Linked DNA regions of Homo sapiens. The protein of the gene in region 4 interacts with the protein of the main gene of each other region in a pairwise test. Each region holds a gene or a part of one and is shown on either strand. Other genes may lie near its edges.

The links.
Region 1: the proteins of PPM1A (region 4) and PRSS22 interact in binary tests that used the Homo sapiens proteins (3 or more experiments, as listed by UniProt).
Region 2: the proteins of PPM1A (region 4) and ARRB1 interact in binary tests that used the Homo sapiens proteins (3 or more experiments, as listed by UniProt).
Region 3: the proteins of PPM1A (region 4) and CERKL interact in binary tests that used the Homo sapiens proteins (3 or more experiments, as listed by UniProt).

The regions. Positions count from the first base shown.
Region 1 is NC_000016.10:2,855,155-2,862,611, reverse strand, and holds the start of PRSS22 (brain-specific serine protease 4 precursor), read left to right. Parts: upstream 1-4,441; 5' UTR 4,442-4,507; coding exon 4,508-4,589; intron 4,590-5,763; coding exon 5,764-5,790; exon of another isoform or gene 5,791-5,877; intron 5,878-6,358; coding exon 6,359-6,530; exon of another isoform or gene 6,531-6,692; coding exon of another isoform or gene 6,693-6,760; coding exon 6,761-7,038; intron 7,039-7,457. UniProt on the Homo sapiens protein: Preferentially cleaves the synthetic substrate H-D-Leu-Thr-Arg-pNA compared to tosyl-Gly-Pro-Arg-pNA.
Region 2 is NC_000011.10:75,348,643-75,355,727, reverse strand, and holds the start of ARRB1 (beta-arrestin-1), read left to right. Parts: upstream 1-4,066; 5' UTR 4,067-4,120; coding exon 4,121-4,140; intron 4,141-7,085. UniProt on the Homo sapiens protein: Functions in regulating agonist-mediated G-protein coupled receptor (GPCR) signaling by mediating both receptor desensitization and resensitization processes.
Region 3 is NC_000002.12:181,654,091-181,661,842, reverse strand, and holds the start of CERKL (ceramide kinase-like protein), read left to right. Parts: upstream 1-4,737; 5' UTR 4,738-4,836; coding exon 4,837-5,074; intron 5,075-7,752. UniProt on the Homo sapiens protein: Has no detectable ceramide-kinase activity. Overexpression of CERKL protects cells from apoptosis in oxidative stress conditions.
Region 4 is NC_000014.9:60,245,237-60,252,229, forward strand, and holds the start of PPM1A (protein phosphatase 1A), read left to right. Parts: upstream 1-3,984; 5' UTR 3,985-4,441; intron 4,442-4,925; exon of another isoform or gene 4,926-5,245; intron 5,246-6,993. UniProt on the Homo sapiens protein: Enzyme with a broad specificity. Negatively regulates TGF-beta signaling through dephosphorylating SMAD2 and SMAD3, resulting in their dissociation from SMAD4, nuclear export of the SMADs and termination of the TGF-beta-mediated signaling.

The DNA.
Region 1 (7,457 bases), on a different chromosome or scaffold from region 4:
TGGGACTACAGGCGCCCGCCACCACACCCGGCTAATTTTTTGTATTTTTAGTAGAGACAGGGTTTCACCATGTTAGCCAGGATGGTCTCTAGCTCCTCCTGACCTCGTGATCTGCCCGCCTTGGCCTCCCAAAGTGCTGGGATTACAGGCGTGAGCCACTGCGTCCGGCTGCTTTGCTCCCACTTATACATGAGAACATGCTTAAGAGGCTAAGGCAGGTAGATCACCTGAGGTCAGGAGTTCGAGACGAGCCTGACCAATATGGTGAAACCCCGTCTCTACTAAAAATATAAAAAATAGCTGGGCATGGTGGTGTGCACATGTAATTGCAGCTACTCAGGAGGCAGAGGCAGGAGAATCACTTGAACCCGGGAGGCAGAGGTTGCAGTGAGCCCAGATTGCGCCACTGCACTCCAGCCTGGGCAACAGAGCAAGACTCTGCCTCAAAAAAAAAAAAAAAAAAAAAAAAAGGCTGGGCACACTGGCTCATGCCTGTAATCCCAGCCTTTTGGGAGGCCAAGTCTGGCAGATCATGAGGTAAAAAGATTGAGACCATCCTGACAAACATGCTGAAACCCTGCCTCTACTAAAAATACAAAAATTAGCTGGGTGTGGTGGCACGTGCCTGTAGTTCCAGCTATGTGGGAGGCTGAGGCAGGAGAATTGCTTGGGAGGCTGAGGCAGGAGAATTGCTTGAACTCGGGAGGTGGAGGCTGCAGTGAGCCAAGATTGCACCGCTGCACTCCAGCCTGGTGACACAGTGAGACTCCATCTCAGTAAATAAATAAATAAGAACATGCAATCTTTGTCTTTCTGTGTTTGACTTGTTCCGCTTAAGATAATGGCCTCCAGTTCCATCCACATTGCTGCAAAAGACATGGTTTTGTGTTCTTTTTTATGGCTTCGTAGTATCCCACTGTGTATATATTCACCACATTTTCTTTATCCATCATCTGTTGATGGACACTTAGGTTGATTTCATGGCTTTGCTGTTGTGAACAGTGTTGCTGCGATGAACACACGAGTGCAGGTGTCTCTTTGATTAAATGACTTCTTTTCCTTTGGGTGGATGCCCAGTGGTGGGATTGCTGGTTGAATGGTAGTTCTAGTTTTAGTTCTTTGAGAAATCTCTATCCTGTTTTCCATAGAGCTAAATGATGTACTTATTGTTTACAATTCTCTGTTTCATCCGATGTCCATGGCTTTTGGTTTGCTCATTGCTGTATCTTCAGCACTTCGGACAGCGCCGGCATACAGGCGGTGCTCTGCAAATGCTTGTTGATTGAGTTAACAAGGACAAGGAGAGTGTCTTATTTCCCTTGACTACTCCAGCACATGGTGGGTGGGCTCCATAGCCTTTGGTGGGACAATGAATGGATAGCCCTGTTCAAAGTAGCTCCCCAGACTCCTGGGCCCACATCTGAGATGCCACCATTGGCGAGTCACTTCTTTTGCCAGTGGCAGCTGCTGTTAACATGGAAATGCCCCAGTGGCCCTGTCAGTCATCACCACTCCAGTGCACATGGATCAGAGGCCCTGAGGCCAGGCTGGCAGGGAGTGGGGGTGTGGGTGGCAGGGGCACACAGCTCATCCAGAGCTTGCACAGGCAGGGATGCTGGCCAGCATGTGGGTCTAGCATTGGCAGGCGCTCAATAAATATTTTGTTGAGTGAATGTTGAATCATGCCAGGGTCTCCACCCCGTGGCCTTTCAGAGACTCCACCCTCTATACCCTGGGAATTGAGGAACTGCTGTCTGGGGCCCTTCCCCAGGACTTGTGCCAGGAAATCTTCACCCAGCTCCTCAGGGCTTCCCCCTGCTCCTACCAGGTCCTTCTCCTCGGGGCTCTCTTCCTGGCCACCCTGTCTCAGGGATAGCGGCATCTTGGGCAGGGCCCATGGCTACCCTTGGGTATCCAGGGCAGTGAGCTGGCTCTTCAGAAAGGCAGAAAAGCTGGAATGGAGAGGAAACCTGGGCGGGAGGCAGAGAGGGAGGCTGGAGTGGTCGGTCCCCAGCCACTTGCAGACTTGCTTCTTCCACACTCATTTATACATTCAACAAACACTCGCTGAGCCCCAGGGTGCAGCAGGCACTGAATATGATCCTGGGGGTCCACAGGGAGCCCCCCTGCCCACACTGTTTCCCCAGCACCCAGCTTCACAGTGGCCCTCTAGGGTCCAAGCCACCGCCTGGTCCCATGGTTCTGTGCCCACCTCCCGGACACCTCCCTGTCATCCGTCATCTGCCTCCCACCCCTAGGAGGTCATGTGCTTCCTGAGCACAGGACCTGCGTCTTATTCATCACATGTGTCCTGGTGCCCACCAGGGCCTGACATACAGCAGGTACTCAATATATGTTTGCTGGGTGAGCTGGAGAGGCCACCCACCTTATTCCAGAAGGCAGTGGGGTGGGGCGCAGGAGGGCCCTGGACGCCCTGGGTGCAGAGCTGAGCGGGGGACAGTGAGTAGGGTTGGGGGAGCCCAGCAGAAATTTCTGCTGCAGTGCTGCTGCTGCTCAGAGACACTGCCCCTCCTTGGCCACTCTGCGTGGCCTTTTCCTGCAGTTCCCCCAAACCCCCTCTGAGTCCTGGGACAGAGAATAATGCATCCTCTGGGGCTCCCCAGGGCCCTGCTGTTTGACTTGTCTCTCGGTGGAGCAGGGCATGGCCTCTCTGCCACGAGAAAGTGCCAGTCGTCCTGCTGCCACCCTAACCCTTAACAGACTGAGGAGGTGGGCAGCACAGAGTCCACCCCCAGGGCAAAACCCGTCCTGCTCAGAGCCATGGAGTCCCTGAAGCAGCCATGGTGGTCTGCTAAGCCCCTGACCCACGCCACCCTGACTCTGCAGGGAGCAAGTTAGGGCTCACCCCAGGCAGGGTGAGGCACCTCCTCCAGGCTCCCGAAGCCTCCATGAGGGCAGTCCCAGCAGCCACCCCCAGTGTTGGGGTGCAGGTCCGGCTCCACCACTCACCCAGCAATCTCGGGCAAGTCACTTAACCGCCCTAAGCTGCCTCAGTTTCCTTATCTGCAGAGTGGGAATAATAAAGACATTTGAGGATTAGGAGGCAATGCATGGCACTCCTAAATGTTTGCTCTATTATATAAATACTATATTTATATTTGTATAAATATATTTATTACATACATATTCACTACTATGGTTTTTTTTTTTTTTTTTTGAAACAGAGTCTCGCTCTGTCGCCCAGGCTGGAGTGCAGTGGCGTGATCTCAGCTCACTGCAACCTCCGCCTCCCAGGTTCAAGCGATTCTCCTGCCTCAGCCTCCCAAGTAGATGGGACTAAGGGCGCCTGCCACCATGCCTGGCTAATTTTTTTTTTTTTGTATTTTTAGTAGAGACGGGGTTTTACTATGTTGGCCAGACTGGTATTGAACTCCTGACCTCATGATCTGTCCGTCTTGGCCTCCCAAAGTGCTGGGATTACAGGAATAAGCCACCCCACCCAGACACTATGGTTGTTTTTAATTCACCCCCGGCGGTAGCAAGGGCCCTGCTGGAGGCTTGTTGATCGAATGAGTGAAGGGGCGCAGGCTCCTGCCTCTTTGTAGAGGAGGAAGCCTGCCCTGCTTGGGTGGGAGTGTCCCAAGTGTGGGGCGCTGCAGGGCACTGAGTCAGGGAAGGTCTCACAGGATTCAGCCCCGGGTTGCCACTGTGGCAGCCGCTGGGGGGAAGCACCGAGAATCCACTCCCAGCCCAGGACCCGGCCCCCCACAGCCCAGCCCAGCAGCTCTTTGAATCCTGGGAGTCCCAGCCCTTCCCGGGGCCCCTCTTCTCTCAACCCCCCTGCTTGGCCGAGCCCTGGTGCCCATGGGCTCCTCCCCTTCCCAGGAGTCCAGGTGAGGTGAGTTGTCAGGTGTCTGAACCGCAGGGCAGAGCCCCGCCTCCAGGAACGACAGGAGGGCGGCCACCAGGAGGCCACCAAGGTCGCCACTCACCTGATTCACAGCTTTCGGGAAGTGGGTTAACGGGATTCCCAAGCCCGGGTTGCGCCAGGTCTCTGGGCTGAGTCACAGGGGCCTGGGGCCCTGCAGGTGGGAGCCGTTACTGAGCTTTGGGCACCCCCTTGATCCCTAAGGCCCTAGGACCACCCCCAACACCCAGTACCCCAGACTTCAGCCTCTCCAAACCCAGGCCCTCCCCAGCCCGGAACCCCTTCCTTTCAGTGCCCTGGCACCTTTCTCTGCCCCTGGACAATTAATGTCAGGGACCTCTGGGCCCAAGCCCCCTCCCCTGCCCTTCCAGAGGCCACATCCTGGGGTCTCAGCTAGAGCCCCCCCAGAGCCCTGTAGCGGCTGGCTTCCTCCCCGCAGCCCCGCCCTCTGCCCAGGACCCACAGCCGGGGTGGCCGCGGGAGCCACCTGGGGACTGGTCTGACGGCATTCCGCCTCCCAGGATAAAACCTGGGGCGACCTGCAGGGAACCTACACACCCTGACCCGCATCGCCCTGGGTCTCTCGAGCCTGCTGCCTGCTCCCCCGCCCCACCAGCCATGGTGGTTTCTGGAGCGCCCCCAGCCCTGGGTGGGGGCTGTCTCGGCACCTTCACCTCCCTGCTGCTGCTGGCGTCGACAGGTACGTCCGGAGGCTGCTCCTCCCTCCTCCCTCTCACCTCCACCCTCCTTCCCTCCTTCCCTCCCTCCCTCTCTCCCTCCTGGCCTTGCCTCTCTCATCTCCTTTCCGCTTCTGCTCTGTTTATCTCTTGCTCCTTAACTGCTCTGTGCCTCGGTTTCTTCTACGGCTGTGAGGATGAAACAGAAAACGCAGCAAGTACGCAGCGCGCCTCGGTCTCCAGTTACCGTCGGCGTCGCCATCGCCTGCTCCCTCTCGCCTCCGTGTTCTCCCATCTCCTCGTCCTCCGCTGCTTGCCTCTGGGGAAGCACCGTTTTGTGTTGTTCCTGCCGCAGGAGGTCAGGGGAGGGCACACCAGCGGCAGCAGCGTCCAGAGCCGAGGGGCTCAGGTCTGTGCCTCCCTCGAGGAGCCGGTCCTGGTCCCCGGAAGGCAGGCTGGACGGGAAGCTGCGGGAGGGCAGGGTCACAGCTGTGCAGCCAGGGCCTGGCCAGGCCCCAGGAAATGCCCCGCCGGTAGGGGCCCTGGGGTTGAGAGACTTGAGAGTCTCCCTGGGCACTGGAGGGCTAGAGGTTCCTCACCACCAGGTACTCAAGGGGACCCCCTCCTCACTGGGCGCTGGGACGCCTGCTCACTGGGCGCTGGGACCCCTCCTCACTGGGCGCTGGGACCCCCTCCTCACTGAGCGCTGGGACCCCCTCGTCACTGGGCGCTGGGGACCCCTCCTCACTGGGCGCTGGGGAGCCCTCCTCACTGGGCGCTGGGGACCCCTCCTCACTGGGCGCTGGGGAACCCTCCTCACTAGGCGCTGGGGAGCCCTCCTCACTGGGCGCTGGGGACCCCTCCTCACTGGGTGCTGGGACCCCTTCCCACTGGGCACTGGACCCCTTCTCACTGGGTGCTGGGGGCTTCTCGCTGGGCGCTGAGGGACCCTCCTCACTGGGTACTGGGACCCCTCCTCACTGGGCGCTGAGGGACCCTCCTCAGGGGGTGCTGGGACCCCTCCTCACTGGGCGCTGAGGGACCCTCCTCACTGGGTGCTGGGACCTCCACCTCACTGGGCACTGGGATCCCTTCTTACTGGGTGTTGGGGGCCTTCCTCACTGGGCGTTGAGGGCCCCTCACCACTGTGTCCTGGGGCCCCTCACCGGCCTAACCGTTTCCTTCTCTTGCCCTCAGCCATCCTCAATGCGGCCAGGATACCTGGTGAGTGGAGCTGGCAGCTCTGACGGGAGGGAGAAGGGAGGAGGCCCACGCGCAGGCAGTGTCTATGTGTCCGTCCCCTGGGCACAGGTCAGAAAGGGGCTGGGGTGAGAGGGGGAAAGAGCTAGAGGGGAAGGGAGGCAGGAAGGAGACACGGATGCAAGGAGAAAGGCTTGAGAGATGCCAGGGCCAGAGGAGAGAGAGAGCCAGGAAGGTGAACAGAGTGGAAAGCAGGGTAAGGAAAGAGGGGGAGGGAGAGACCAGGTGCAGCTGACAAGGAGTGAGTGGAAAGGCCAGGGCCAGGTGAGGACCAGCAGAGAGTGAGGATGGAGGGAGGGATGGGACGGGGAGGTGGGCGGAGCTTGGGGTATGGGTGGAGCTTAGGATGTGGGTGGAGCTTGGGGTGTGGGTGGAGCTTGGAGTGCAAGTGAAACTTGGGATGTGGGTAGAGCTTGGGGACATGAACGGAGCTTGGGCTGTGGGCAAAGCTTGGGGTGCAGGCCTAGGGATTGGGATTCCGGGGGTGGGTTGTAGGAAGTTGGAGATAACAAAACTTGACCGTACCCTCCAGTTCCCCCAGCCTGTGGGAAGCCCCAGCAGCTGAACCGGGTTGTGGGCGGCGAGGACAGCACTGACAGCGAGTGGCCCTGGATCGTGAGCATCCAGAAGAATGGGACCCACCACTGCGCAGGTTCTCTGCTCACCAGCCGCTGGGTGATCACTGCTGCCCACTGTTTCAAGGAGTATGTACAGCCGGCCTGGGGCACTTGATCTTCTAAGGCCCTGGGCTTTGTGCCCCAGGCCCTGGGCTCCCTTTACAGGCTCTGCTTCCGGGCCTCTGTTCAATCTTGGTGCCCCTCGATTCTACCTAGAAGCCTCTCCTGCCTTCAGGGGCCTTCACACCCATGCTGTTCCCCCAGGTACCTCCTCCCAGACCAGGCCTGGCTGATCCTCCCCTTCCCTTTCCTTCCAGCAACCTGAACAAACCATACCTGTTCTCTGTGCTGCTGGGGGCCTGGCAGCTGGGGAACCCTGGCTCTCGGTCCCAGAAGGTGGGTGTTGCCTGGGTGGAGCCCCACCCTGTGTATTCCTGGAAGGAAGGTGCCTGTGCAGACATTGCCCTGGTGCGTCTCGAGCGCTCCATACAGTTCTCAGAGCGGGTCCTGCCCATCTGCCTACCTGATGCCTCTATCCACCTCCCTCCAAACACCCACTGCTGGATCTCAGGCTGGGGGAGCATCCAAGATGGAGGTGCGGCTTCTTCCTCTCCAAGGTGGTTGGGGGCAGATGGGGACAGAGGATGGCAGACACTCAGGGACACAGACACCATGAGCAACAAAGGGTGGAGGCCAGAGGCACAGCATGACAGAGGTGGAAGGAAAGATGGGCTGCAATCCAGAAGAAACCTTGGTGGGCAATTTCAGGCCATTTCTCTTTTCTTTTCTTTCTTCTTCTTCTTTTTTTTTTTTTTTTTTTTGAGACAGGGTGTTACTCTGTCACCCAGGCTGGAGTGCAGTGGTGTGATCCTAACTCACTGCAGCCTTTGCCTCCCAGGCTCAAGTGATCCTCCCACCTCAGCCTCCCAGGTAGCTGGAACTACAGGTGTGTGCTACCACACCTGGCTAATTTTTGTATTTTTTGTAGAGACAGGGTTTTTCTGTGTTGGCTGG
Region 2 (7,085 bases), on a different chromosome or scaffold from region 4:
CTAAAGGTATCCTCCTTCCTTGGTCTCCCGAGTAGTTAAGACTACAGGCACACACCACCAAACCCAGCTAGTTTTTTGTTTTTTTATTTTTTGTAGAGATCTCACTATGTTGCCCAGGCTGGTCTCAAACTCCTGGGCTCTAGCAATCCTCCTGCCTCAGCCTCCCAAAGTGCTGGGATTACAGGCATGAGCCACCACACCCAGAACCACCCTTTCTCATTTTTTAATAAGAAATGATTGTGAGTGGTAAATTTCAGGCATGTGACTCGCCCTAGTTGGAACACAGTTGGAGATGACCATCTCCTATGAGCCTCAGCTGCAGAAGCCATTTGCCTTTGAGCAAAAATCACTCTGTTGCTCAGGTGGAGGATGTGACACAAATGGGTTGACGGGAAGAATGGAGGCCACCAGTCCTCTCGACCGTGACTTCCCTTGGAGAATTACATGGAGAGTTGGCACAGACAGACCCTGACCCAAACCTCTGAGTCATCCTGGATCCTCCATTATTCACAGCCAGTCCCTCAGTAGGTGCTGGCAGCTCCCCTTTCAAATATATCCTGAACCCGGCCAGGCGTGGTGGCTCACGCCCGTAATCCCAGCACTCTGGGAGGCCGAGGCGGGTGGATCACTTGAGGTGAAATCCCGTGTCTCTACTAAAAATACAAAATTAGCTGGGCAGGATGGCATGCGCCTGTAGTCACAGCTACCTTAGGAAGCTGAGGCACTAGAATCGCCTGAACCTGGAAGGCAGAGTTTGCAGTGAGCTGAGATCGTGCCACCGCACTCCAGCCTGGGCAACAGAGTAAGACTCTGTCTCAAAAAAAAAAAAAAATCTGCTTCCCAAATATATCCTGAACCCCATTACTTCCTTCATTTCTGTGGCCACCTGTCTTGCCCAAAACCCCACCCTGACGACTGCAATAATGGGGTGCCTTGCCTCTGCTGTTGTCCAGTACCAAGTCATCTCTATCCAACAGTTAGAGTGACCTTTAAAAATGTAAAGCAGATACTGGTGCTCAGCTGCTTAAACCTCCCACTGGCTCCCCAAACTCCTCATCCTCAACTACAAGTTCTGTGTGACCCCAACCCTGCTGCCTCACCTGTACCACCCCTTGCCTGTTCACCAACACCAGGAGCACTGTCCTTGCTCCTGCGCCTCTACAGTTGCTGCTCCTTCTGCCTGGGCAGCATCTTCCCTGACTGTCCCCTCACATCGCTGATTCTTTTCCGCAGGTTTCAGCCCAAAGCCCACCTCCTCGGAGGGCCTAGGGCCTTTTTCTAAGTCTACTTGTCCCTATCACCCTGTTTCATTATTGCTTTATTTTCTTCATAAAACTTATTACTGGCTGAGATTATATTGTGGATATACAAAGAGTTCTCCTCAACATTATCACTTTTACATTTTATTAATTTTTTTTTTTTTTGAGATGGAGTCTGGCTCTGTCACCCAGGCTGGAGTGCAGTGGCGTGATCTCGGCTCACTGCAATCTCCACTTCCCAGGTTCAAGTGATTCTCCTGCCTCAGTCTCCCAAGTTGCCAGGACTACAGGCGCCCGCCACCATGCCTGGCTAATTTTTTTTTTTTTTTTTTTTTTGTATTTTTAGGAGAGACAGGGTTTCACCATGTTAGCCAGGCTGGTCTTGAACGCCTGACCTCAAGTGATCTACCCGCCTTGGCCTCCCAAAGTGTTAGGATTACAGGCATGAGCCACTATGCCCGGCCATTTTATTAATACATAAATATGTTTTTCAAAAATTAGCTGGGCGTGGTGGTGGGCGCCTGTAGTCCCAGCTACTCGGGAGGCTGAGGCAGGAGAACGGCCCGAACCCAGGAGGCAGAGCTTGCAGTGAGCCGAGATTGCGCCACTGCACTCCAGCCTGGGTGACAGAGCAAGACTCCGTCTCAAAAAAAAAAAAAAAAAAAAAAATATATATATATATATATATATATATATGTTTTTCATAGAGCCTGGCAGGTAAAGCAAAATTGTCCTCTTGACTCTTCTTCTGCCATCGTTGCTCCCTCACTGGAATTTAAAGTAAATTAAATCGACCGGGAGCAGTGGCTCACGCCTGTAATCCCAGCACTTTGGGAGGCCAAGGTGGGTGGATCACCTAAGGTCAGGAGTTCGAGACCAGCCTGGCCAACATGGTGAATCCCTATCTCTACAAAAATACAAAAATTAGCTGGGCATGATGGCAGTGGCTGTAATTCCAGCTACTGGGGAGGCTGAGGTGGCAGAATTTCTTGAACCCAGGAGGCAGAGGTTGCAGTGAGCCAAGATCATTCCATTGTACTCCAGCCTGGGTGGCAGAGCAAGACTTCGTCTCAAAAATAAATAAAATAAATAAATATATTTAGATGTTTTGGGCATCAGCATGGAGAGATCCATTGGAGATCTTATGGTTTGGTCAAACCTGTTTTACAGGTGGGGAAACTGATGTGGAGAGTGGCAGGACCTGGCTTCACCATCCTGGTTAGGGATCTCCTGTCATCAAAGAAGATTCTAGTCTGCTCCTTTCCAGATCTCTGAGCCCTGCAGAAACAACAGGTGGCTTCCTCTTCTTCCTCTGTAGAGGGTGAAACCCAGAGGCCAAGACTGGGAGGAGGGTTCTGGGCTTTCATCCATACTCTCTAGCTCCTAACATTGCCCAGAGGTGGGCCACCCTGCCTACCCATCAGCCTCCCCCTGCCCCTCTGCCAAATCTGGACATAATTATAGTAATTATACTGCATATAAACAGTATAGGTAACTGCTTCTGAGCATAATTACAGGAGATGTTTACATACTCACAACAGCATCAGAGTAAATGATAGCTTACTTTCCCCTTAATACTTAGATATCAGGGACCTATCCGGGATAATTAGCCAAATCTCAGTAGTGAGGGTGTGGTAAAGACCTTACCGTTTCCCACTACCTGCAAAGCAGGAAGGCACCTCAGACAAAGCAGGGTCCCAGCCAAGATTTCACAGGACATCAAGAAGCCTGCAGAGAAGTGGGCTAACATCTACTGGGCACCTACTGTATGCAGGCGCTCAGGGGAGGCCAGCAAACACAAGCGAGTTCTTTCAACCTATTAACAATTCTGCAGGCTGATATTAGTGTATCCTCACTTTACAGGTCCGGACATGGGTTCTCAGAAGCTTAGTGCACAGGGTCACCCACAGCGAGCCATGGAGCTGGGCATGGGCGCTTTCCACGGTGCTACCCGGTCACAGCAGCGGGCCAGCTCTGCCCTCTTCCTTTATCGCCTCTTCTCACTTCTCACAGCTTCCTCTTCCTGGGCGGCCTCCTGCAGCCCCTGCTGGCCGCGGGTCTCCGCTCAGTTCCCCAGTGTCAAGGCCGTCTACTGCCCCCTCCGCCCCTTCTTCCTGTCCCTGTTGTGTGGCTGGGTGTTATCTCTCCAGTAGAAGGGGGTGGGGTGGGTGGAATGGGGAAGGGTGGAGCACAGGGCGAAGGCCTTGCCAGGCATCCCGGGGTCTCCAGCTAAGCGAGGGGCCGCAGGGAGCGCGGCCTCGGGGTCGCCAGACCCTCGGCTTCCAACCACCCGCACACACAAAGGCTGCCCCGGCATGCGCGGGAGAGCGCGCTCGCACCCACGGCCGTGCGCACACACGCACAACTGCACAAAGACGTGCACACTCCTCCATCCACACCAATACACTCCCTAATAGGGCCCGCACACAGCCGTGCGCCCTCACATACACCACACCACCACCACCACCACCACACACACACACACACACTCTCACACGGACTCGCACGCGGGTGGACCCCCTCCCCCACCACAAACGCCGACCTTGGGGCCCTGACGCGTCCCGCCGCGCTGCCCTGCCTCGCTGGGCGGCGCGCGCACACGCAGACGCGCACACACACACACATACACACACGCACACACCCCGCGCGGTTCCACGCCCCTGGCCGCGGCCCGGGCGCTGCGCTGCTCGACGCGGCGGGCGGCGGGCGGGGACCGGGGGCGGGGGCGGCGGCGGCGGCCGGGAGAGCGGAGGAGGCGGAGCAGGGAGCCGGGAGCGGGCTGGCCCGCGCTCCTCCTGCTGGCTGGGGATTTTCCAGCCTGGGCGCTGACGCCGCGGACCTCCCTGCGACCGTCGCGGACCATGGGCGACAAAGGGACCCGGTGAGTGCAGGGCGGCCGCCCGGCGGGGGGCGCGTGGGGGCGACCTCGGCGAGGACACGGGCGGGGGCTCCGATTGCGTCCTGGTTCTGCGTTCGCGGCCACCGCGGGATCTAGTACCAGCTCTCCTCCACCCGAGGTCTCCTGTGTGGTCTCCCCGGCAGGGCCGTGGGCGGGGGGACCCAAAGGGCGAGGGCCGGGCCGCCCCATGTGGGCCGCAGCTCCTGGCCCGGACACACAGCTCGCTGACACCCAGCATTGGCCGGCAGCCGCAGAGACGCACGGGGGCAGGTTGACACACAATACACGCACGGGCACACTAACCCGTGGCACAGGCATGCTGGCGCACACACTGGCAACCGCTAGCACACGCTCATCACACGCAGTGGCACGCCGTCATACACGCCTCGGTCAACACATTCTTGCTGACAGCCTTGTTGGCATGCACAGCTCACAATCCAACACACACCAATTCTAGCACACCCTCGTGCTGGCACACACGTGTGGGCATACACTGATACGCACACTGTCACCTGCACTCGCTGTAGCAAACACTCTTGCTGGCACACACATCACCCTCACTGGCACACACACTTGTGCTGGCATGTCTCACCAACACAGCGGAGCGCAAGGCCACACCAACACTGACCCCCACAGACACAATCAGACTGATGCCCTCAAAGACTGGCACCCCACAGGCACGAGCTGCTAGCCCAAGGCCCGCTGACACACACGCTTCAGGCCCCACATGGCCAGAAGTGGAAACACACACATCACACAGGGTAGAGCGCCCCCCGCCACCCCCAGCCTGGGGAAAACAGATCGCATTTCATCCAAATAGATCCCATCCATCTACTCTGTTCCCTTTCCCTCTGACCTCCTGAGGAGTGGCTGGCCAGGGGCTGTTTTGAACCTAGGGCTGGGAGAACCCCTCCCGTTCTCCTAGAACCTGTCCTGAAATACTCAGAAACAGTCTCTGCCTCTGAAAGGGGAAACTGGGACAAAAGGAGGAGGGGGCTGGAGCAGGACAGCCCCTGGGGGCAGCCCTTCAGACAGGACCAGCGCTGGTCAGGGGCTCAGCGTTGCCACCCTATTTTCCCCGTTGCCCTCCCCACCCCCTAAGTGGGCACAGCAGCCTCTCCCTGGGCTCCCCCTCTTTCTCATTGTTTTCTGTCTTTCTCTTCTATTCTTGTGTCCGACTTCTGCCTCCTTCCTTTCCTCCCCTCCCCTCTCCTCGTTTCCATTTATTATTAAGCTCTTGCTGTATACTAGGCGTAGTGTGGGGGATCAAAGATGCGCAAGGCCCACTCCTCCCCTGAAGGAGCTAACAGACTAGAGAGACACCACCCCGGTGGGCACCACCTTTCAGGGCCACTGACAAAGCTATTTCTCACCCACTGCCATCTAAGACTCTCTCTCCACAGTGTGAGAAAGGGCTTGCAGAGATTATTTCCATTTTCTAGAGGAGGAAACAGGCTCAGAGGCAACTCAGGCTCTTAATGTTTAGAAACTACTTTCCAGCCATCCTCCTGACAGCTCTTCCAGGAGGTTAATTTTCCTCTTCCTGTTTTCTAGCAGAGGAACCAGAGGGCTAGAGGCCATGTGATTTGCCTAAGGTCAAAAGGGGCCAGAGGCAGGGCGGAGGCTGGAGTCCACTTGGTCATGTCTCTGTGGATGGCCCTAGGGCACTGCCAGGCCCCTCATGGGCCAGGGAGGGGAGCCCTGCTCTGTGCTGGAGGCCCAGGCTTTGGGGGGGACGGCAGAAGATCATGCTGTGTCTGCATGAACCTTGATGGCTAGTCCCCATTGCAGCTGGCTGGCCAGCACTGTGACCTAGGCCTCTGTCCTCAGTAGGAAGGTATGTGACTCCTTCCCCAGCCACATCCATCTGCCCTGAAATTAAGACCCTCTTGACCCATGAGGTCAGGCTTTTCTTCCTGCAGGGCATAGCAGGGAGTCGGAGCCATTCTCCACTCCATTGTCCTTCCTAGGCTGCCTTGTGATCGGAGTGACTCAGCCTCTCTTGGGTCTCTCTGTACCTCTCTGTGACTTGGGGGATAAGTGTCATTGTTGTCCTGCTGACATGATTGTCAGGAAGATGTGGACACCATGGGCTTCCAGGCACCTGTTGGAGACCCTGTCTCTGAGGCCAAGGTATTTTCCATGGCTCCCCCTGCCCTGCCTCAAACTCACTGGTGGACCTTTGGGACATTGGGCAATTGCCTTTACTTTTCCGGACGTTAGTTTCCCATCTGTAAACTGGAGCTATCAATACTTACATTTTAGGGCTTCCCTTGTACTTACTGACTTCACTGGGCAGGGGAAGAGGCACTGCCTGAAGCCTGGAGCCAAGGCCCGGCTAAATCCACCTGATGGTGGCCCAGACCTCCCCTTCAGACTCTCCTGCAGCCCCATGAGGCCTTTCTGTCCCTTTCCGGACAGTTGGCTAAGTAATTTGGAAAAGAAGGGCAAAATCAGTAATGGGCTGTACCTTGTCTTTTTCCGTAAGGCATGAGTACCTATGACTTAGAAGAGGAATCTGCAGATATCAAAAACTGAACATCAGGAATCATCGCAACCATCCCTCCATCTGGAATTGCACCCCCATGTGAAAGTGACAATGAAAATTTATCACAAACTGTCATTGCCCTCTAGGAACTCCCAGGGTCAAGGGGGAAAGAGGTGTTAAATACCTGGACAGGGCTGTGCGCGGTGGTTCACGCCTGTAATCCTAGAACTTTGGAAGGCTGAGATGGGCAGATTGCTTGAGCTCAGGAGTTCGAGACCAGTCTGGGCAACATACCATCTCTACAAAAAACACAAAAATTAGCTGAGTGTGGTGGCACATGCCTATAGTCCTAACTACTCTGGAGGCTGAAGTGGGAGGATCACTTGAGCCCTGGAGGTTAAGGCTGCAGTGAGCCATGATCATGCCACTGCACTCCAGC
Region 3 (7,752 bases), on a different chromosome or scaffold from region 4:
ACTAATAATAGGAGAAAACTGATAGAAAAGAGGGTTTGAGCAGGTGGGCAGGAATTGGACAACATGGTGTCTCATATGTCATAATAGAAGTTTGGATTTTATTCTACCTGCAGTGAGAAGTTCTTAATAAAAAAAAAATTCTATAAACTGGAGTTTGAGAAAGAACTATGTTGATGATAGCATAAGCCCTCAATCACTTGTCACATAAACTCCAAACTTCAGCAGAGACTCAGGGAGATCAAAGGGACTACCACAGGATTACCCACTGGCTAAAATTCAGATCCATGGCAGTTGGTCCTGACTGGAATTAGACTTCCTTGTCTGTTGCCCTCATTGCAGTGGGTCTGAATGTCTCTGTCGGCTGTGAATTTTTCTCCCTCTATCTGTGGCACTGAGAAGGTGGCCCAGACTTCCAGAGTCTGTCTCATTGGCCTATTACTTGGGGATTTGCTGCCCTTCTTCTGGAAGTTTGGGTATTTGTTTTCAGAGCATACTTAAAGGCCTCCTGAAAGCAATGTTAACAATAGCAGGATATATTTTACAGTCTTCTACTCAGACTTGGATTTTTAAGAACCAGGGATGGAGACTGTGTTTCCAGATCTAGTCAAATCCCTTCCAAACATAAAGCAACAAAGTGCCTTTTAAACTAGGACCTGTACTGTTTAATGCTCTGGAAACAAATACCCAAGCTTCAGCCAAAGGAGGGAAAGCTATGTTCAGGAAGCTTCCTGAAAGTTTTTTGAAAGCAATTTTCATGCATTAGTATTTTACATATATATATATATATATATACACACACACACACACACACATATATATAAACATATATATATATACACATGAATCACTAATGAGACAATTGATCTTCAGGAACTAACGTGAAATAATTGGGGTATCTTGGTATTATTGTTATAGATAAATGTTGAAGAAGTTCATTCTTTCAGATATTAATTGAGCACTTACTGTGTACTAAGAACTGTGATAGATACTGGGGATTTAATGGTGAACAAGATAAATTCTCTGCCATCAGGGGGCTTATATTCTAACAAACTTAAAATTTACTGAGTGTTCTCTGTATTTCAGTATTGTTACTAAGTACACTAACTTAGTGGGGAAGCTAGACAATAAACAAAGAAGTATGTAATAAGAATTAATAGTAAGTGCTGTAAAGAATACTAAAGCAGGTTATGGTAGAGAGATTAATGGCAGCGTGAAGATGTCCATGTTTCAATCCCCAGAACCTGTGAATATGTTACCTTACATAGCAAAAGAGGCTTTGAAAACATAATTAAGGGTTATCTGGGCAGGCCCAATGTAATCATAAGAGTCCTTATCTAAGACGGGGGACAAAGGTCAAAGACAGAGGAAAAGAGACGATTTAAGGATAGAAGCAAAGAGGAGAGATGTTAGACTGCTGGCTTTGAAGTTGGAAAAAGTGAACATGAGCCAAAACAAACAAAACAGAACAAAACAAAATCCACAGGTGACCTTTAGAAAAGGGGTCCCCAGTCTCTGGGCCATGGACCAGTACCTGTCTGTGGCCTGTTTGGAACCAGGCTGCCCAGCAGGCGGTGAGTGGTGACTGGTGGACAAGCAAGTTTTACCACCTGAGCCCTGTCTCCTGTCAGGTCAGTGGCAGCATCAGATTCTCATAGCAGCCTGAATCCTACTGTGAACTGCACATGCAAGGGATCTAGTTTGTGCTCCTTATGAGAATCTAATGCCTCCAAAATGCTCACCCCTTCAAACTGCCCCCATCCGTGGAAAAACTGTCTTCCACAAAACCAGTCCCTGGTGCCAAAAAGGTTGGGGACTGCTGCTCTAGAAGCCAGAAAAGAGGAGATATATTTTCCTCTAGAGCCTACAGAAGGAATATATAGGCCTGCTGGCACCTTGATTTTAGTCCTGTGAAACTGATTTTGGATTTCTGACCTCCAGAAATGTAAAACAATGCATTGGTTTTGTTTCAAGTCACTAAATTTGTGGTAATTAGATACAGCAGCAGTAAGAAATGAATACACAGGTTTACAGGATGGTGAATTATGGAGGGTGCTCAGGAATGGCCTCTTTGAGGTGGTGGCCTTTAAACAGAAAAATGAGCAAAGTGAAAGAATGAACCATCTGGTGGGGAGAAAAGCATTCCAGTCAGAGGGAACAGCAAAAGCGAATGCTCTGAGAAGGGATTATTCTTCTCAATGTGTTTGAGGACTGGCAAGAAGGCTTTGTGTGAATGAGCAAGGGGAAAAAGTTAGTAGGTGATCTCGGAGACATAGCCAGGGTCCAGATTATAAAGGACCTCTCGCCTTGCTAAGCATTTTGACTTTATTCCAAGAATAATGGGAAGTCAATGGAAGGCTGTGAGCAGGGTTATATGCTCTCGTTATTTTTTAAAGGCACAATGTAACTCCAAAATGGAAAATTGGCTCTGGGCTGGAGGTGCCAGCACAGGGGAAACCGAAAGCAGAGAGCTGGGTTGGGAGAGCGGAGACTGAAGTTGTCCAGCTGAGGGGTGCAGAAGTGCAGACTGCAATGACAGCAGGCAGAAAGGACTATATGTTCTAGACAGAATGGACAGGATTTGCTGGTAGATTGGATTGAAGGCATGAGACAAAGGAGACATGGATGATATCAAGGATTTTGATACTACAGATTTGAAACATTCTGAGAGGGACAGGTTTGTGATGGAAAATCATGAGTCTGGTTTTAGATATGTTTTAGAAGCTTATTGGACAGCCAAGTAGAGATGTCAGGTAGGGAGCTGGACATAATACCTAAAGTTCAGGAGAGTGGTTGGAGCTGGTGACATCATTTGCAGAACCCTGGATGGTACATAAAGCACGGGACAGTGTGTGGATAGATCCTAAAGAGAGCCCTAGGGCACTCCAGCCCTGGAAGAAGGCAGCTTATCAAAGGAAAAAGAAAGAAAGAAGGAAACACAATCCTTATTACTTCCATCTTCAGGACAATTCAAAGCCAGTGTTTTTGACTTCCTGGCTTGAGTGAAGCTTGAAAAATGGCAACTTGCCCCTTTGCAAAGCTCCTAAGGAGTAGCCATTGGCTTGGCCTGTTTGCACTGGCTCTGGGTGAGCTTTTAAAATGCCAGTGAGCTCTAATTGTGTTGATTGCCTAACAGCTGTGAATACAAGATGCTGACTCCAGAACTGCAACTCATTCTGCGAAGGGCACCGTCCTTTTCCCTCTAATGACTGCTGAACAGAGCCACCTGAAGCCTGCATGGGGTTTAGCAGCAGCTGCACTTCTGCTCTAAGAAATAGCTCACTGCAGTCAGATCAAACTGAAGCTCTTCCTTGCTTTTCCTCGAAGCTTGGGTACTTATTGTCGGAGCATTAAACAGTAAGAGTCCTAGCTTAACTGGTGCACAGTGCTTTATGTTTGGTAGGGATTTGGTTAGGCCTACAAACCGTCTGAGCTAAGAACCTTGAGAAACTCCTGCTATAGTTAGCTCTTTCTGTGACTCTGCAGTGTGACCAGGAATGAGGACAGAATTAAGAATTTGCTGCCTCTATGATAGAACTGTTTAGGCACTAGAACACTGGAACTAGATCTACAACCCTATGAATTTAATTTCCTTTTCAACTCCCCTACTCCTTCTTTTCAATATGATGATAATGATCTTGTTTAAAAAAAAAAAAAGCCTTCTGCTTTACTTCCCACTCTGCTCCTCTTCCCAGGGACTCACTTTCTTCCTGACTGCTTCCCCATTACAAGTACTCAGCTCCCTGTTTTATCACCCTGCTTAGAGCAGCCATTATCAGCCTTGGCTGAACATTGGAATTACCTGGGAACTTTTAAAAATCCGGAAGTCTGGGTCTCGCCTCCAGAGATTCCAGCTTAGTTGTCTTGAGCGTGGCCTGGACATTTGGGTTTTCAAAAGTTCCCTATGTAACTTTAATGTGCAACCACAATTGAGAATCACTAGCCTCCAGACTCTCTGTGTTATCAAAATTAATGAGCAGCTGATTTTAGAAATCTCAGTTATCAGGAGAAAAGGGTGAACCCCCCCAGGGCTCTTCTCCTTTTCCAGGTGACACTTCTTTATGGCAGTGCGTGAAAGTGAAGCCCTGCTGCTTGTAATCTCCCTCAAGGGAGTGCAAGATCCAGGCAAAGACAAGACTGCAGAGGCGCTACCTTGGGGGAAAGTAGGACCCTAAATACTTACACCTGGAGGCACTTACCTTTAATACTGAATTTGTCAGATGCAAATTTGTCTATGCAAACCAGGGCCTTATCTCTAGCTTCCCCTCAGGGGTTTTGGGAAGTGCGCTACTACTCTGAAACAGGGTTGTAAAGCGTCACCTGTGCTCTCCAGGGAACCCTCTGGAAAGGAGGTGGAAAAACAGAGGCTTCCACCCTTGCAACTCTAAGTGTGTTCCTTGGCCAGTGGGATCCATCACCTAGTATTTTCTTAGATATGTGGTATCTGGGGGCCAGTCCCACACCTATGCAATAAGAATCTCCATTTGAACAAGATGCCCAAGCGATTATATGCAAGTTTAAGATTGAGGAGGGCTGGTTTAACTCGAGGGTAACGAAAAGTACGAAATCGTACTTTACAGGAGAAGCTAGGCGGAGGGAGCCACTTATTCTTCCTCTTGCAGCTGGGTCTTTTTGTGGTGAGTGGCGAAGCGGCGAGGCTGGCAGGCCAGGGTGCTGGACTGGGTCAGGCGCGGCCCCGCCTCCCTCCTGGGTCCCTGCCCTGCGCGCCGTTGCTGTGGCAGCGCTGGACGCGGCTAGAGCTGGGGCTGCCGCGCCCTCCACCTCCTTCTCCAAAGGCCTCCCCGGACCCCTGGCTCGGGCCCAGCCTGCGACTCCGCCATGCCCTGGAGGAGGCGCAGGAACCGGGTGAGTGCCCTGGAGGGCGGCCGGGAGGAAGAGGCGCCCCCGGAGGCTGCCGCTGTGCCTCCGGCGCTGTTAACGTCCCCGCAGCAGACGGAGGCGGCGGCCGAGCGGATTCTGCTCCGGGGCATCTTCGAGATCGGGAGGGACAGTTGTGACGTGGTGCTGAGCGAGCGAGCACTGCGGTGGCGGCCCATTCAGCCCGAGCGCCCGGCGGGTGAGTGCCCGGCCCCAAGCGTCTTCGCCTCCCTCCGCGCTTCCTCCCTCTCCCCGGCCCAAGGCCTACACCCACGAGCTTTTGCTCCACCCTCCCCTTTTCTCGCCTCCCCTCCCCGTGCTCGCCTCACTGCCCGGACAGGTTACCGAGTCCCCAAGTCGCCGCCTCCTCCTTCCCAACTGGGAACTCACGCCTCTCGCCCCATCCCAGAACCCCCAGGGATTCTTTCGCTACCTAGCCTTTTCCCGCCTCCGAGACCTTCCCCGGGCAAACGTCACAAGCAGCTTTTGCTCAGAGTCTCAGCAGAAAATCTTGAGCCCCAAAGGGGAGGTAATTTACAAATGTGAGAAGGTCAACTACTCCTCCCCTCCAAGTTGAAAAAGTTTTAATCCATTAACTTTGATGGTACATTGAAACTATAAACATCTCACAGATTATGCCTACACAAGAGTTCTGAATCCAACTCTCATTTTGCTGACTTGAAAATGTAACTCCAGAGCTTTGGGAGTGTTTCTGGGTTTTTTTCTGCCCCTCACCTTCCTTGCCATTGTCTAGAATTAAGACTTCTTCAGGCTCGGTCTAGAAACTTTTGATTTTTAATATTGACCCTAGATTATTGGATCACAGTTTTGCGATGCTTAGTTACGTCAAGCGGTTTGCTTAACGTTTGCCTTTTATTGACTTAAAATTTTAGTTACCTAAAAAAGTTATAATGCTGTAGTTTACAACAAATACTTCGAGTCTATTTTCACGTCTTAGTCAAATAGCCTTATAGACTTAACAGATATTTTATAAAGACCATTTTGCAAGTCTTATAAGTAGACTTTCATATAGTCTTATTTCTAAGTCCAAACTCGAGAAATACTCCCCATTGTTGAATTAGCTTAGATGTGAGCGGTGAAAGACAGATGAAATGGGGGAGGAACTACATCAAGGTTACTCTACTTGCGAGGAGATGACTTGGGGGAGATGGAATTTGGTATTCAACCTCTTTTAGCTAAATACAAATTTATGAAATTAAAAAAATTGCCTTCCCCTGTTGGAAAACAAGACACAGTGTGGTATTTATGTTACAGAATAGACTCACTGTCTTAAAGTCTTGCTCAAAAGTCTAACAAAATGAAACCAACTAGCCAGGGATTCAGCACTGGTTGCGATTGTGAATTCTGCCTGTGCTGCATGTGCCATGCTCGCTCGCTTCACGAAAACAGTCTTTGACCTTAAAGTGTTTTCAGGTGTTTTAAAAACCAAGGTGTAGTATTTTCTTGAACCTTTTAAGTTAAAAGCTAGGGATATAGCTATGGAATTATTTGTAAGTCTTTCAGGCAATTCGAGTTATGCAATATAGAAGTTTATAATTACAGTTTGGATTAGCCCAAAGAGCCAGTTTAACCTACAGTGCAGCTGAAATGCTATAGAATTAAAATGAGACATTGTGCAATGAGAGGTCATACAAACCAATGTTGCAGTATTTGTGTACAAAAAAAGCAAACAATGACATGAGAAAAGAAATGCTGTTTTATATTGAGTGGTGATTAAGGTAAAATAGGTTTAATTAGTGCACCCCTGGCAGTAGAGTTTAAAATACATCTTGACAGATTTGTAACTTTAAAGGTTGCAAGTACTGATTCTTTGTTTAATTATGCCCTAAAACCATTTGGTGGTCTTTTCCTTCATACAGGTGTACCCTTTTTCTTTGTAATTAATACCTGGTATTCAAACCACTTTGGGCCTCTAAAATTGGGGGCACAGAAGCCTAGAGCCTTAGTAAGTACTTCTGTTTATGGAAGAAACCAAGAGATGTTTTATTTAGGTAAAATATAGCCAGGCGTGGTGTGTCCCTGTAATCCCAGCTACTTGGGAGGCTGAGGCAGGTGAATTGCTTGAACCTGGGAGTTGGAGGTTGCTGTGAGCGGAGATCACACCACTGCACTCCAGCCTGGGCAACAAGAGTGAATCTCCATCTCAAAAAGCACAACAAACAAACAAAAACAAACACTGGGAAATAAGAAGGAGATATTAAGAGATGATATATTTAAATGTTAGAAATGCTCTGTTGTTGAATAAGCTTAGATGTGAGTGGTAAAAGATTAAATGGAAGAGGGAGCTACATCAAAGTTACTGTACTTGGGAGGACATGATATGGTAGGATGTGGTGGGGGGAGAGCATGTCCATTGCTGGTTGGCAAGTGACTGGCTGCCTCAGAAAAGGATGAGGGTGGGTAGGGGAGATCACTGGAGATTATTAGAACATACGTATGTTTTCAAGATTGCTTAGTTTTTAAACCTCATAGTACTTTGTTTTCACTGATGAAATAAAATACTATGTGATCTTTTTCTAATTTTCCATCTTGAGTAATAAGCAAAGACATTAATGTATTTTATGAAGGCTCTGACTGCCAAAATTGGGACAAATTGATGGTCTTGTTGGCAGGGTAAATGAGCATAACCGTAGTAATTGTAGTTCTTTTTATTGGGTTCAGGGATGACCTGGAATAATGGATGTGTTATTACCCTTCCCTGTAGAAGTGAGGCTTTCGAAAAGAGGCTATAAGTCAATTTGGGAGGCACAAAGTATCAGCGCTTTTTGGGGATTTTTTTTTTTTTTAAGTAGAGAAATATTTTAAATGTGTGATATAAAGTTATGCATGTGCTTCTTAAGCACATTAACTCAACCA
Region 4 (6,993 bases):
AGAGGTCTGCACTGAACACCTGTTTCAAGTCGTCTCCCGGATCTGTTTCCTTATTTATTTTCTTCACAGCATGGATAACAGTATGCAATTTCCTTTCTATCTGCTGACTTATTTGTCTATGCCTCTTATTATTATGTTGGCTCTTTGTGGGCAGGGCTTGCCCATTGATGTCATTATCTACCTCCAGTGTCCCACACAGTGCTTGGTGCACAATAGCTATCTCATGAACAGATGAACTTATCTGACAAGATCCACTCTAGTATTGTAAGGCTGTGGCCATATATGGCTATCTTGAGGTGAAAGCCTACCCTAAAGACTGTCCAGGACTTGGCCTCTGGTGCTCACAGTTGCCCAGGTTTCTCTCAGGTCGCAGGATGAGCCACAGTGGTAGCATAAGACTGCTGGCTGCTCCCCTCTGCCCCTCCCTAATGGGGCTGCCCAGTGATGTCACACAGGACAGGATTCTCTAATCCTTTTGATTCTGTAACAGTCCTCTAAGCAGCTAAGTTTCTCATAATGTATTATGATGTAGGGGAGGGAGGAAGGAGGGCCAGGGTAGGGGGCACACCCTCTCCCTGAATGAAATTCATTTAGGGGCACTGTCTGCTCGCATGTTCTGTTCTGGGAGAAAATGGGTAGCAGAAGCTACAATTTGTACTAAGCTAATGAAAAGAGAGAAAAGAAGAATGGGGAAGAGAAGGGCAAAGAAGGCAAAAAGAGAAGAGAAGAAAAAGGGAGGAGAGAGAAGGAGAAATGAGAAAAGAGGAAACCAAATGAAGAGGATGTGTGAGAGAAAAAAATATGAAACAGGTAGTGAGGGAGGAAGGAATTGTTGAACCTATGTTCTGGTTGGCTTTCTAACTCTTGAGTAGTGACTGGCTTCAGTGGAAAAGGATGGTGAGGGGTATTCTCAAATACTAGCCTCCTGAGGGGGTCATTTACATTACTGCATATATTTTGAGAGGCCCAGGCAAGTCTGCCTCAAGGGTGACTCTCCTGGAGAGTAATTTGGGAGCAGGAATGTAAACCTTTTTTTAAGTCACAATTGTGGTGGAAAGGGAAAGAGAGTATTGCTGATCAGATTAAGCTTTAGACTCCACACTACAGCCCCTGTCCTCACCCCAAGCCTCCCAATTACTAGGCTATCAACACACACTAAATTCAGGACTTTAAAGCCAATCTTGTAGATAATCTTTTTCTTTGTTAATTGAAATATAAACAGATTTCCAAAGCAGAGCAGGATAGTTTTATAATATACCTATAAAAATTACTAAAATGTCATCATCATGGCAATATATTCCCACTAAAATCTTACTGTGAACATCCCAAATATGTGTAGAGGCCCGGCAAAGTCTTACAGTTCAGAAGAGAACTTTCAATCCTCTTTTTTCAATGTTATTTTCCCCTTCTATCTGTCCCCCCTTCTTAGCATAAGGTTTAATAAAAGGGGATATGATGATATTAAACATATTTAATCAGACAATATTGATATCTTTTTAAAATATTAATCTTATAACCCATGAGTTTCCTAGTTCATACCAAAATGTCCCTGCAAGCTGTATTCAGAAATAAATAGTAGGAAGGTGCTGCTTTATCGGCAGTCTGTACAATGCGTAGACTCCTTAAAAATTTCTTTCTGTTCATATTTTCTATTTCTCTCCCTCTTCTTCTACAATTGACCCAGATTCTCCAAGTGCAGAACAGAGAGAAGAAAGGTGTGGAAGCCTAAAGGAAGGAAGCAGAAAGATAGGCAGGCATTTCAAGTTTTCTATGGTCCACTACCGTCACTAGTGACCCAGCTTCTGCTTATAAATAAGAAAATTTGTCTTTTAAGAGCACTCTAAATGGTTGCCATATGAGCTTTTGTAGTTCAGAATGTTAATGAGTCCACCAGCATGCTACTCATGCTGTTACTTGCCTGGAGTATTAAGGATTCCAAGAAGGTAGCGTTTCAAAGATCTCTGATCTAATTTCTTTTTTTGGGGGGTCGGGGAGATATGTGGAGAATTAGGAAATGTATCCTCAGATGATACTGAGACCAAATGCATAGTGAATTTTATTTTTATTTTGTATATGTGGAAATGATCCACGATCATCTTCTAAGGAATTCTGGCCGGGAACAGTGGCTCACGACTGTAATCCCAGCACTTTGGGAGGCCGAGGAGGGTGGATCACGAGGTCAGGAAACCGAGACCATCCTGGCCAACACGGTGAAACCCTGTCTGAACTAAAAATACAAAAAAATTAGCCAGGCGTGGTGGCAGGCGCCTGTAGTCCCAGCTACTCGGGAGGCTGAGGCAGGAGAATGGCATGAACCCGGGAGGCGGAGCTTGCAGTGAGCCGAGATTGTGCCACTGTACTAGCCTGGATGAAAGAGCGAGACTCTGTCTCAAAAAAAAAAAAAAAAAAAAAAAAAAAAGTGAAGGAAACAGAACCTTCCCCAAAGTCATGTTGAGAAAATTAGAGATGGCTTTTTACAACTTTAAAAGCAGCAGCTAAATATTTGCTGAATGCCAGAAAGAATAAATAGGTTGCTTTTGATCTAAGAGTTGGGGCAACAAAATGGTTTAGGAGATAGAAAGTAGTAGGGTGCAAATTGCTATAGTGAGCTCCTCAAGTAAAATAGAGAGGCCTTCAACATAAATTTACCTTTTTTACTGGCCAGAACTCAATTTGGCCAGTAAAAGAACCTGCCTTCTACAATGAAGTCTTTGGTTTGTGTGTGCATCAGAACATCTTTTAAAAATACGGACTTTTCTTCTAACTTCTTTTCCTGCGAATGTGGTGTAGGTCAAATTCGTGAACTGGTTAAGCCGCTGACAAGAGAGGGAAGGGCACCCCAGCCAATGGGAACCCGTGCTGGTGATGTACTGCTCCTAGGCTGCGATTCATTGGCTGCCTAGGGTTTGTCATTCTATCCCCGGCGTCTGCAAGCAGCGTGGGTCGGGTTTTCCAGCTAGCTAAACTGGATTTTGGCCGCTGGCACGTGCAGTTTCTATTAACTTTAGCTCATCTCTACCTCTTAATAGAAGCAGCTGTTATGTTTCTGATTATTCTCCTGATTTTGAAAAATCCTGTTCCCTTAACCTACCTCATTGGAGGTCGTTGGAGGTCCCCTGGGACAGAACCACGTGATTATCTAACATGTGCAAATAAATACAATGTGGAATCCCCTGAACTATAGAGGGAAAACCTGCCAGAAACTCAGAGCATGTGCCCCGTGCGTGAATCAGTTGCACTCGCACATTGGTGGGCGGTGGTAGCGTGCTTGTGTCTCTGCCCTTTGGGTCGCGAGGTGTGTGGCCGTGGCACCTGCTTGGGCTTCCTGGGGTCACTGGGAGAGGAAGGCTCTGGAGGAGTGGGACTCTGGGGTAGGGGGGTCTGGCAGCTGCCTGGGACCCACCATGGGTTCGAAGGGCAGCGGCCAGACCGCGACGGCGCCCAAGAAGGGTGGACAGCTTCGGGTCTGTGCTCGGGGCTGCGTGTACACCATCTTCGCAGGGAGTGGGGTTTGTATCTGCAGGCAGGTAGAAGAGCCAGGGCTCCGGGCGCGGACGCCGTAGGGGTAGCTTCCGAGTCCCTACTTGGCCAAGGGCCGGCACGGAGGGGCTGTCGATCTACTGGGCACCTAATAGCCGCACATTCTGTCCAGTCCCTGGCGCCGGAACGTGAAGGCCCGGGTCCTGGCTGCTATCCGGGATCCGGACGCTCCCTTCGGCTTCGGCCTGGTGCTCCAGGCCGTAAGGCAAAGGCGGCGGCAGCAGCAGCGGCAGAGAAAGAAGCTGGGTAAGGCAGTGACGTCATCTGTGGCGGCCCCTCCCCCGCCCGCCAGCCCTCACCGCAGTTCCTGCCCAACGACATCCGGGTCTCTGTAGCTGCGCGCCGCGCCGCAGCTGTAGCGGCGGCGGAGCCAGCGGGGCGGGGCGAGCGGAGGGGTGGGGGAGGGGCGACGCGGTCGTGAGCGCGCCTGCGCGGGGCCGCGCTAGAGGCGGCGGCGGCGGCGGTGGCGGCGCTAGGGACGGGAGCGCGCGCGGGAGCTAGAGAGCAGTGGTCTCGGCGCTCGTCCGGCCCGCAGCTTCGGGTCCTCAGGCGGCTGTTGCTCCGGAACGGGTGGTTGGGGAGGGGGGGGTGGGGGGACTCTAGACAGCTGAGGCGCGAAAGCGATGAGTCCTCGGCTCTTCCTCCTCCTTCTCCGGGACCCGCTCTCTGCCTCCCTCTCCAACGCCCGGATGATCTGAGCCGCGAGGGCGCCGACAGCCGGGGGCCCGGACGCAGCCCGGCTCCTCCCCTCCTCCGCCCCTTCCCCAGCCTGACCTGGCCCGCCGCTGCAGCGGTGACCCCTCCCCCGGCTGCCGCCGTCGCCGCCGCGGTGACCCCCTCCCCGGCTGCCGCCGCCGCCGCCTCGGCCGACCAGGGACCTGCCCGCCTGCGGCTGCTCCGGGTAAGTGCGGCGCTCGGGCCGACGGCGGGCTGGCGGGCGGTGCGGGCCTGCGCGGCGGCGGCGGCGGGCAGGCCTGGGGCCTGTAAACAAGCCGGGCGTCTGCCCGGGCGCTCCCGGGAGGAGACGCGACAACTCCACCCCCTGGCCGGCCTCCTCCCCCGAGCCGGGCGGCGGACGGCGAGGGGTTAACGCTCGGCGAGGGCGGTGGCGGGGAGGCGGGGGCGGGGTGTTAGTTGCGGTGGCGCGGGGAGGGGGCGCGACCCTCTGGCCGTCCGCGGCCGAGATGGGTGTTTGTGGCGGCGAAGCAGGCGACGGCCGCAGGCCGGCCTGGCCGGAGAGCGGCCTGCAGAACTTTTCCCGAGCGGGGAGGGGGCGTCCCCGCGCCCCCACCCGCTCGGGCGCGCCGCCCCGGCTGTCCTGGGCTTCAGCCCCTGGGAGGGAGGCGGGGAGACTTCCTTTGAACCGGGCTTAGCCTCGAAAAACCTAATTCTGTAGAAATTGCTTAAGGTTTTACAGGGGGCAGGGCTGAGAGACTCCTTCAGAACTCAAGTCAGTGAGTGATGCCTCTAGTTCATTCATTATTAAGGCATCGAACAAATCCATTGAAGTAAATTCCGATTTCTTATCCTTTTAACTACGTAAATCGGGTAAAACTTCTTGATGTTAGAGCTTGGTTGAGGTATGGTTCTGTTCTGCTTGTAGATTTTAAATAAACTTGGAGCCTTTTCTTGAAAGACAGCTGGCTGTGGAGAGCCTTCTACCAACTGCAGTTTTAGATACGTTTTGAAAATTTCATCACCTGAGGTATTTTTCTTCTCTCCTGAAACACCACATGGTACAAATCCACAAAAGTCATGCTTCAGTTGTCCAAGCCATGGGATCTGTGTGCTAGCCCCACCTCCCCGCAAGTTTCCTGCTCATTGGAATAATGAGCTGAATGTGTTTTAAGAAGTGGTTGGAAGAGTATGAGAGATAGGTATCATTTTCTCAAAGGAAATGATTTTGACATTATTGAGAGAAATTAGACATTTTAACAATTGTTTTGTAAAACAGTCTTTTCAAACTTGCACGTTGGGGTTTTAAACACAACCACTTTACATGTGTTGCGCTCCGAAAAGTGGAGGGATTTGTTGAAACACTACTCTGCTGAGACTTAGGGTTCCAGAGCACTTGGGAATTTAGCATAGCTTGGTCCCCAACTCTCTTTGAAACACTTTACTTTTATACTTTTATCTTGCTACATATTGGGCCTTTTCCAAAGATTGTATTTCTGTAACTCCTTATTTTACAAATGAGAAAATTGAAAATAAGGAGATTCTCTATTCTTAGATGCTGCTTTTACTGACTTAATGCTTTCTTTACCAATAAATAATTTGAAGCACAAAGTAACATTTCCTAGTGTTATAGTTTTGTTCTTGTTATGTGTAACTTATATGTATCTGATTAAACTTTCAGTCATGTAAGGATGATTACTTTTAACCTGGAAGTTTACAGCAGTACCACATTATTGAAACTATAATGAACTTCCTGCACATGGCAGTTGCCTAAGACATTTTAATTTGATATCATAAAACATTTTTAGATCGGTGAAGTAATTATATTATGGGAAAGGTGTATTAAGACTGATAATGTTTGAAGTTAACTACCTCAATTATATTTGAGAAATAATAGTCATCAAATTGCTTTTTATTTGGCTTGTATCTTTTTATGTATTTTGTGTACATATTGTATCTTTTTACATGAGGGGCTGAGGTATATGACCTGTTGAAGGGAACAGTGCAGTAGGAGACAAGGATTGTTTAGTCATGGCTGTGCTCCAAAATATCTGTGTCCATGGACAAGTCCTTTAACCTTTTGAGTTTCAGCTTCCAAATCAGTAAAGCCAGTTGGGCAGATTATATTATCACATGTACTGTCCAGTTACTACATTTAAAAATTTTTTTTTATCAATATTGTGTGTCTAGTCAACATACCGTTGCCAAATAAATGCCTGTTATGTGTCAGGCACTTAGATGTTTCAGTGTTCTAAGGCTGGATTTCTTTCTCGGTTCTGTTTTATTTAACAAATTCTAAGTTGGTGATGGTTCTTTAGAAAAGCTGTTCTTGTGTTCTTGTAAGCTATTGATTTTTCTTTTGGGATTGGGATGTGTAGGGAAACTCTTGAGAGGAAGGAGGATGGAGATTTCATGGGAGACAAAGGGTGGTTGAGACTACAGGTTTGAACAAGCACAGGACCCTTGGTAGTCTGATGTGAAGGACATTATAAAAACACATTATGAAGGTTTTTTCTGTCACTTCAAGCTGGGTCTTGTTAAACCTTTGAAAATTCTCTAATACCTCATTTGTTTTTGAAAGAAATCTATAGCAACATCATTTTGTCATGTGGTAAATATTGCTGAGCAGTCACTAAATACCTATAGTCTTTTAGTTTGTTCAGATTACATCTAGGCCATTTGTTTACTCTAATAGCTAATAGAATGTACAGCTGATTTTGGTTTAACTGTGCGTGCATATTTGTAATTTTTAACCAAGAAGTGGCATATGTCCACAAG